Homo sapiens: one gene and its partner. The protein of the gene in region 1 interacts with the protein of each later gene in a pairwise test. Each region holds a gene or a part of one and is shown in the gene's direction. Other genes may lie near its edges. The genes, in order: CRNN and LMO4.

Evidence for each region.
Region 2: the proteins of CRNN (region 1) and LMO4 interact in binary tests that used the Homo sapiens proteins (3 or more experiments, as listed by UniProt).

Annotation. Positions count from the first base shown.
Region 1 is NC_000001.11:152,408,641-152,411,488, reverse strand, and holds the end of CRNN (cornulin), read left to right. Parts: intron 1-545; coding exon 546-1,895; 3' UTR 1,896-2,246; downstream 2,247-2,848. UniProt on the Homo sapiens protein: Promotes cell proliferation, G1/S cell cycle progression and induces expression of the cell cycle regulator CCND1. Regulates proliferation induced by pro-inflammatory cytokine response via activation of NFKB1 and PI3K/AKT signaling pathways.
Region 2 is NC_000001.11:87,345,821-87,349,691, forward strand, and holds the end of LMO4 (LIM domain transcription factor LMO4), read left to right. Parts: 3' UTR 1-3,103; downstream 3,104-3,871. UniProt on the Homo sapiens protein: Transcription cofactor. Plays a role in establishing motor neuron identity, in concert with MNX1, acting, at least in part, to disrupt LDB1-LHX3 complexes thereby negatively modulating interneuron genes in motor neurons.

The DNA of each region.
Region 1 (2,848 bases):
TAGGGACAAGGACATATGGGCACAGAAGGATGCTGCATCCACATGCTCAGGGCAGCGCTGCAGGGGCCCACTGCTTCCCTCCCTCTTTATCATGGGGAAACATCTGGGCCTCAATGAGGAGCGCACAGAATTCCCATGGGGCTGTGTTCCCAACCTGCTGCTCTTTGTGCTGGGCCTGCTGAAGAGACTAAGGCCTCAGTGCCAGGGGCAAGGTGCCAAGGGCAGCCCAGACAGTCAACTTGAGAGCCCAAACAGTTGCATTGTGAATTCAATAATTTATTAACTCTTCAATAAATCTTTATCTAATTTTCCTGTAGCCCAGAAATTGTGCCAAATAGAGGCTACCAAACAAAAAATGCTCTCTACACTTGAGGGAGAGAGACGGGACTAAAAAAAAATAAAGGCAATTAAGTCTTGCTGCTGCTCTAGCCGTATGTGTGTGTAGTGTGGGGTCTGAGGCAGGGGAAGCTGGCAGCAGATTGGAAGGGACCTGCCCATGTCCTCCTCAGGGGAGGGATGCTGACTCCACCTCATCTTCTCCTCAGAAACCCCACGATCCAGCAACTGTGGATGAGGTCCTGCGTCTGCTGGATGAAGACCACACAGGGACTGTGGAATTCAAGGAATTCCTGGTCTTAGTGTTTAAAGTTGCCCAGGCCTGTTTCAAGACACTGAGCGAGAGTGCTGAGGGAGCCTGCGGCTCTCAAGAGTCTGGAAGCCTCCACTCTGGGGCCTCGCAGGAGCTGGGCGAAGGACAGAGAAGTGGCACTGAAGTGGGAAGGGCGGGGAAAGGGCAGCATTATGAGGGGAGCAGCCACAGACAGAGCCAGCAGGGTTCCAGAGGGCAGAACAGGCCTGGGGTTCAGACCCAGGGTCAGGCCACTGGCTCTGCGTGGGTCAGCAGCTATGACAGGCAAGCTGAGTCCCAGAGCCAGGAAAGAATAAGCCCGCAGATACAACTCTCTGGGCAGACAGAGCAGACCCAGAAAGCTGGAGAAGGCAAGAGGAATCAGACAACAGAGATGAGGCCAGAGAGACAGCCACAGACCAGGGAACAGGACAGAGCCCACCAGACAGGTGAGACTGTGACTGGATCTGGAACTCAGACCCAGGCAGGTGCCACCCAGACTGTGGAGCAGGACAGCAGCCACCAGACAGGAAGAACCAGCAAGCAGACACAGGAGGCCACCAATGACCAGAACAGAGGGACTGAGACCCACGGTCAAGGCAGGAGCCAGACCAGCCAGGCTGTGACAGGAGGACATGCTCAGATACAGGCAGGGACACACACCCAGACACCCACCCAGACCGTGGAGCAGGACAGCAGCCACCAGACAGGAAGCACCAGCACCCAGACACAGGAGTCCACCAATGGCCAGAACAGAGGGACTGAGATCCACGGTCAAGGCAGGAGCCAGACCAGCCAGGCTGTGACAGGAGGACACACTCAGATACAGGCAGGGTCACACACCGAGACTGTGGAGCAGGACAGAAGCCAAACTGTAAGCCACGGAGGGGCTAGAGAACAGGGACAGACCCAGACGCAGCCAGGCAGTGGTCAAAGATGGATGCAAGTGAGCAACCCTGAGGCAGGAGAGACAGTACCGGGAGGACAGGCCCAGACTGGGGCAAGCACTGAGTCAGGAAGGCAGGAGTGGAGCAGCACTCACCCAAGGCGCTGTGTGACAGAAGGGCAGGGAGACAGACAGCCCACAGTGGTTGGTGAGGAATGGGTTGATGACCACTCAAGGGAGACAGTGATCCTCAGGCTGGACCAGGGCAACTTGCATACCAGTGTTTCCTCAGCACAGGGCCAGGATGCAGCCCAGTCAGAAGAGAAGCGAGGCATCACAGCTAGAGAGCTGTATTCCTACTTGAGAAGCACCAAGCCATGACTTCCCCGACTCCAATGTCCAGTACTGGAAGAAGACAGCTGGAGAGAGTTTGGCTTGTCCTGCATGGCCAATCCAGTGGGTGCATCCCTGGACATCAGCTCTTCATTATGCAGCTTCCCTTTTAGGTCTTTCTCAATGAGATAATTTCTGCAAGGAGCTTTCTATCCTGAACTCTTCTTTCTTACCTGCTTTGCGGTGCAGACCCTCTCAGGAGCAGGAAGACTCAGAGCAAGTCACCCCTTTGTACTGAATTGTCCTCATCTTGTGGGGGGTTTCAGGACTATTTTTATCTCTGACATCTCTCTATTGCCCCATCTACCCTAATGCATCAATAAAACCTTAAGCCACTGGCCTCTGTGTCTCATTCAACCACCTTCTATTGATATTACAGGCCAAAGGCTGTAGAGTTATGAGATGATGAACTGGACATAGTCCCTACCTTTGAAGAGCAACTAGTTGAGAAAATATTATATGAGATTCCTGCTATATATCATACTTAATACTTGGCAGAGATGGACCAGCAAAGGTTTCATACAAAAGGCGCTTTCTTTATGATGGCCCTGAAAAGACAATTAGTATTTAGATAGATAGGCAAAATTCCTCTTGGTCTTTCACTACCTCTAATTCTATAGCGTTAAACCGCTATTCACCTGTAAGGTCACACAGGAAAGCTGATTTAAGATTACCAAGAAATGGAAGAAGGCCCCCAGTGGCTGTGTAGGGAAAGAGCGAGAAAGCTTGTGTTACCAGGTACTGAGCCAGGGGCCAGAATTTTGTGCTTCCCTTCCTACCTCCCCCTCAGTGTCAGCTCTGACCTCTCATGATGTCTCACCCACCAGATATAAACCATGTTATGGGGTAGAGACTATCAATTCTGGTTTATTTTAAGAGTGACCAGAAGAACAGTTTTAAAATAAAGATTTATAGGGACGGGCGTGGTGGCTCACACCTGT
Region 2 (3,871 bases), about 65 Mb from region 1:
TAACAGCATTTCGTTACACTTCTATATCACAGTAAGTCTTTTGTGTTTATAAATACTTGAGTGTCCACTATTTTGTTTATTCTTTTTCTCAATAGCAAACAAAGCCTTGGGTATTGATGAAAAGTATGTATAAAAAAAAATACGGCACAACCATCCTGTTCTCTTATTGAGTTTATAGCTTTTGAAGGAAGTCACAATTTCTAAGTCATACCTGTACATATTTTGAAGCTCACTTAGTTGTAGGGACCCAGAGCTCTTTTTTTATGGTGATCTTTGATTGGTGAAGTAGCCATTTCCTGGTGACCCTTAGGCTCGTGTGGTTGGCTGTAAGGTGTTTATTTTGTTTTGCTCCTACACTTCTTTACTGACTGCGTTTCCGTATGTATTTTGGGGGAAGATTCTGACTTCATTTAGTCTTAGTCTTGAGATACTGAGTTGCTGGTTGCAGGCAGCAGAGTGTCCACCACAGTGCCTGCACTGCCCGCAGAGCTGCCCTCCGGAAAGCATGCAGTATAACAGCTAGTGCTGGAAGGAGGAAAACCAAATAGGCCTGGAGGCTGAGGTTGTACTGCCAGCTTCCTTAGATGTGAGCAAATTTCAACTACAACTTCCATCACAGGCTAATAAAACCAGGTGTGTGAACGCTACTATTTTAAATTTTCTTTTTTAAGATGGCATTTTATTTTGTTCCAGAAAAGCGCCTGATGTAGACCCTCCCTCTGAGAATAGCCGTGGAGCCATGTAGAGAGGTGTAGCTCAGCACATCTCAACTACCAGTCAGCTTCCCTTTGAGAACTTCTGTGCTCACTTCCTGTTTTCAGAGATTCCAGGGCAGGGGAAAAAAAAAATCAGTTGAACTTCAAACCTCCTAGAGGAGATTGTAAAGGCATAGAGTTGAGGTGAATAGTTTTGTTAGAACCTTATAAAAATAAAATGCAAGAAAATAATATGAAGAAATCACATATATATGTTTGAATTAGATGTCTGTTTGAATTAGATCCTTGGGGAATTTCTTCAAACTAGTTCTGGTTCTTATATTTGTTTTTTTTCCTTTAAGGAACTTTCTGAAGGAAGTTAGACTGCGATGGTAAAGGGGGAAATGGGTTAATGAGATTGCAGGCATTTTCTATATTCTTTTTGGCATAAGCACTTATGTCCCTGATATGTACAAATTCAAAGGAGGTGGTTAATAACTTTAGTAAATAATATATTGTCGCATTTAATGATGTGGAGGGCTAAGGTCATTACGGACTTTAAATAAACTATTATATGGCTGGTTCCTCAAGCACTGCTGCGTATTTAATAATGAGCTTCTAAAAGCATTTCTTAAGTTGCAGACCTATAAGATTACAAATGTCACTCATGTTAGTATAATCCACATGCAAGTGATGAAGCCTTCTCTTTGATGTGCTAAATTGGAGAAGGACTAATGGAGCTATGAATATACAATAGAACATATTTAAGTAGTAGTCTTGCTTTAGGTAAAACACTTTCTTGAAACCAGAGGCATTTCAAACAATAAAACCCGGCTCTAATGGGGATGCTCTGTGTGGATAGAAAGCTACTAAAAACACTCAGGTTTATTCTGATGTGAGCAGCGATTGTGTGCAGTTCCTCCCCCAATCTCAACATTGCTTAGGAAAAAAAAAAATCTATGAGTTTATTCCACCTTTCATCCATTGCATTTGTGATGTTATTAGTTAGCAAGATGGACACTGTTCTTTAGAAAGGACTTATTTAATATTAACCACGTCATAGAGCAAGATGGCCCCCAGTCCCTACAAGCAAGTGCAATTAAAAATAAAAGCAAATGTTACTGAGCCCTGCTGAACTCCTGATAAAAAAAATTATGTTTATGGTACATATAAATGTCTCAATCATGCAAATTGTCACTCTTGTTAATGAAACAATTTTGTAAAAAGATAGTCCTCTAAAAGGGTTTAATGTTTTTTACCTATCTAACTGTCTAATTAGATTTACACATCCCGCAAGGCAGGGGAGCCTGAAGCTTTTCCAAACCAAATCGTTTGCCACTAGAAACTATTTTCAGCTCTTCATGATTTATTAGGAAATAGTTTAACCCGGACTGTAGTGTCTTATAAAATACAAAACGAGAAAACTGACACACCAAAATGAAGTCTGTGAAATTGTCATCCTCTTAATATTACCTGTATTTAAATTCTTTCTTTTGCCCTTATTAACACTGATATTTGAAACAACTAATCATCTAAAAGGAAGCTCTTAAAGGGCTTTAAATGTCAATATAGTAAGATTCTAATGTGCACTACTATTTATATAAAATATTTCTTAGGGCCCATAAATCATATAATAAACAGTGAACCCAAGAGCTACATATGGAGTCTAGTGAAGAGTTCCCATGTAGCCTAACTAATTGTATTTAAATTGAGGAGATCCAAAAACCCCATCACCCTTCACCCCAAAGACCCCTTCACCCTTCACCAGGGAATTCTATCCTGGGTGCTGTCCCACCTATGACCCCTTCAAGAGGCCATTGGAAAAAGGCCATTTACAAGTTAATGTTACTTATAGCTTTGTTACTAAGACTCACCTATTGTTAGTGCAGCCAAGTCACAGAAGTGCTTATTGCAGTTAAATAGCAATTTGTTTCCATGAAACTGCAATTAAAGTATTACTGAGCAGCCATTTTAGATTGGCAGTGCTCTGAACGCATGTTAAACAGCCAGCTACTCCCACTTGCAGAGTCTGAGATCTGACTAGCAGCAAAGTGTAGCACATTCGCCGATGCTGGGTACCTAGTTAAAGAGGCATTTGTAGCCCTCTGCTCCCATCGTGAACATGCTGAGAGCAATGACAAGTCAGGGCTGATTTTTGGAAGGTGAACTTGCAACTTACCTCAAGTGAATACTGTTTTCAGTTGTGCAAGAAGTGCTTTATGCTAGTAGATATGTGCATGTTTCCTAGAGGGAATGTTTTCAAGTTCAGATTGATTCTGCTGAGAATGGACGGCAACTCGGAGGCCTCAAGCCAATAATGTACTACAGGCCCTGACATGTTACAGCTGTGTAAACAGGGCCATTCTATTTCCTAAATCACAACTAATAAAGCAGAGGATGAAAATCAATTGATTCTGTTATAAGTTCTTTGAATGACACTGGAAAGTTGTTTAATGACTCCCTGTTAGAATGGACAAGCCTGAGTAGAGTCACCAAAGTACCGATTTTAATTGTCTCTCTCCCCTCAGAACCAGGGCAGGACAGCCTTTCCTAGGAATTGACATCACCATCACCAGATCAAAACCTGCTGGGGAGAGGAAGGATCTGAACTGAGTTCTTCCCGTAGATCTGACATTCAGAATTTGTTGAGTGAGAAAGGTGAAGTGCAAAGGTTGCATTGAAAATGTGAAACATTGATGCAAGATCCTGAGAGAGAAAAGGATTTCAGAGGTGGTGTTTTAAAATGCAATTAGCACTGAATTCTAACCAGTTTGGAAACAATCATTAGCTCATGAGAACGGGAGGCATCTCACCTTCCTTCACTCTGGAACAACCCCCCATCTTGAACTAAAAGGTTAACATCCCCAACTTCTTCAAAAACAGTTTCTATATTTGTGTGCTTTCACCTGTTGTTTGAGCTGCAAGTTTTTTCTTAAGTTAGAGTTTCTTCCTAAATTAATTTTTCATTTTTGGTGAATTGAATGTTTTTAGGAACTGTAAAGAGAAAATCTGAGGACAAACAGGATTTACAAATGAAGATTAATTATGAAACCTGGAAAGGAAATTGATTTCTTGGGTTGTTACTGTACCGTTTTCTTTATTTAAATAAGGTTTGGTAGGAATAGGTGTGTCTTAAATTCTATTTCTCTAAGGCCTCTGATTCAGTTTCTGTCATC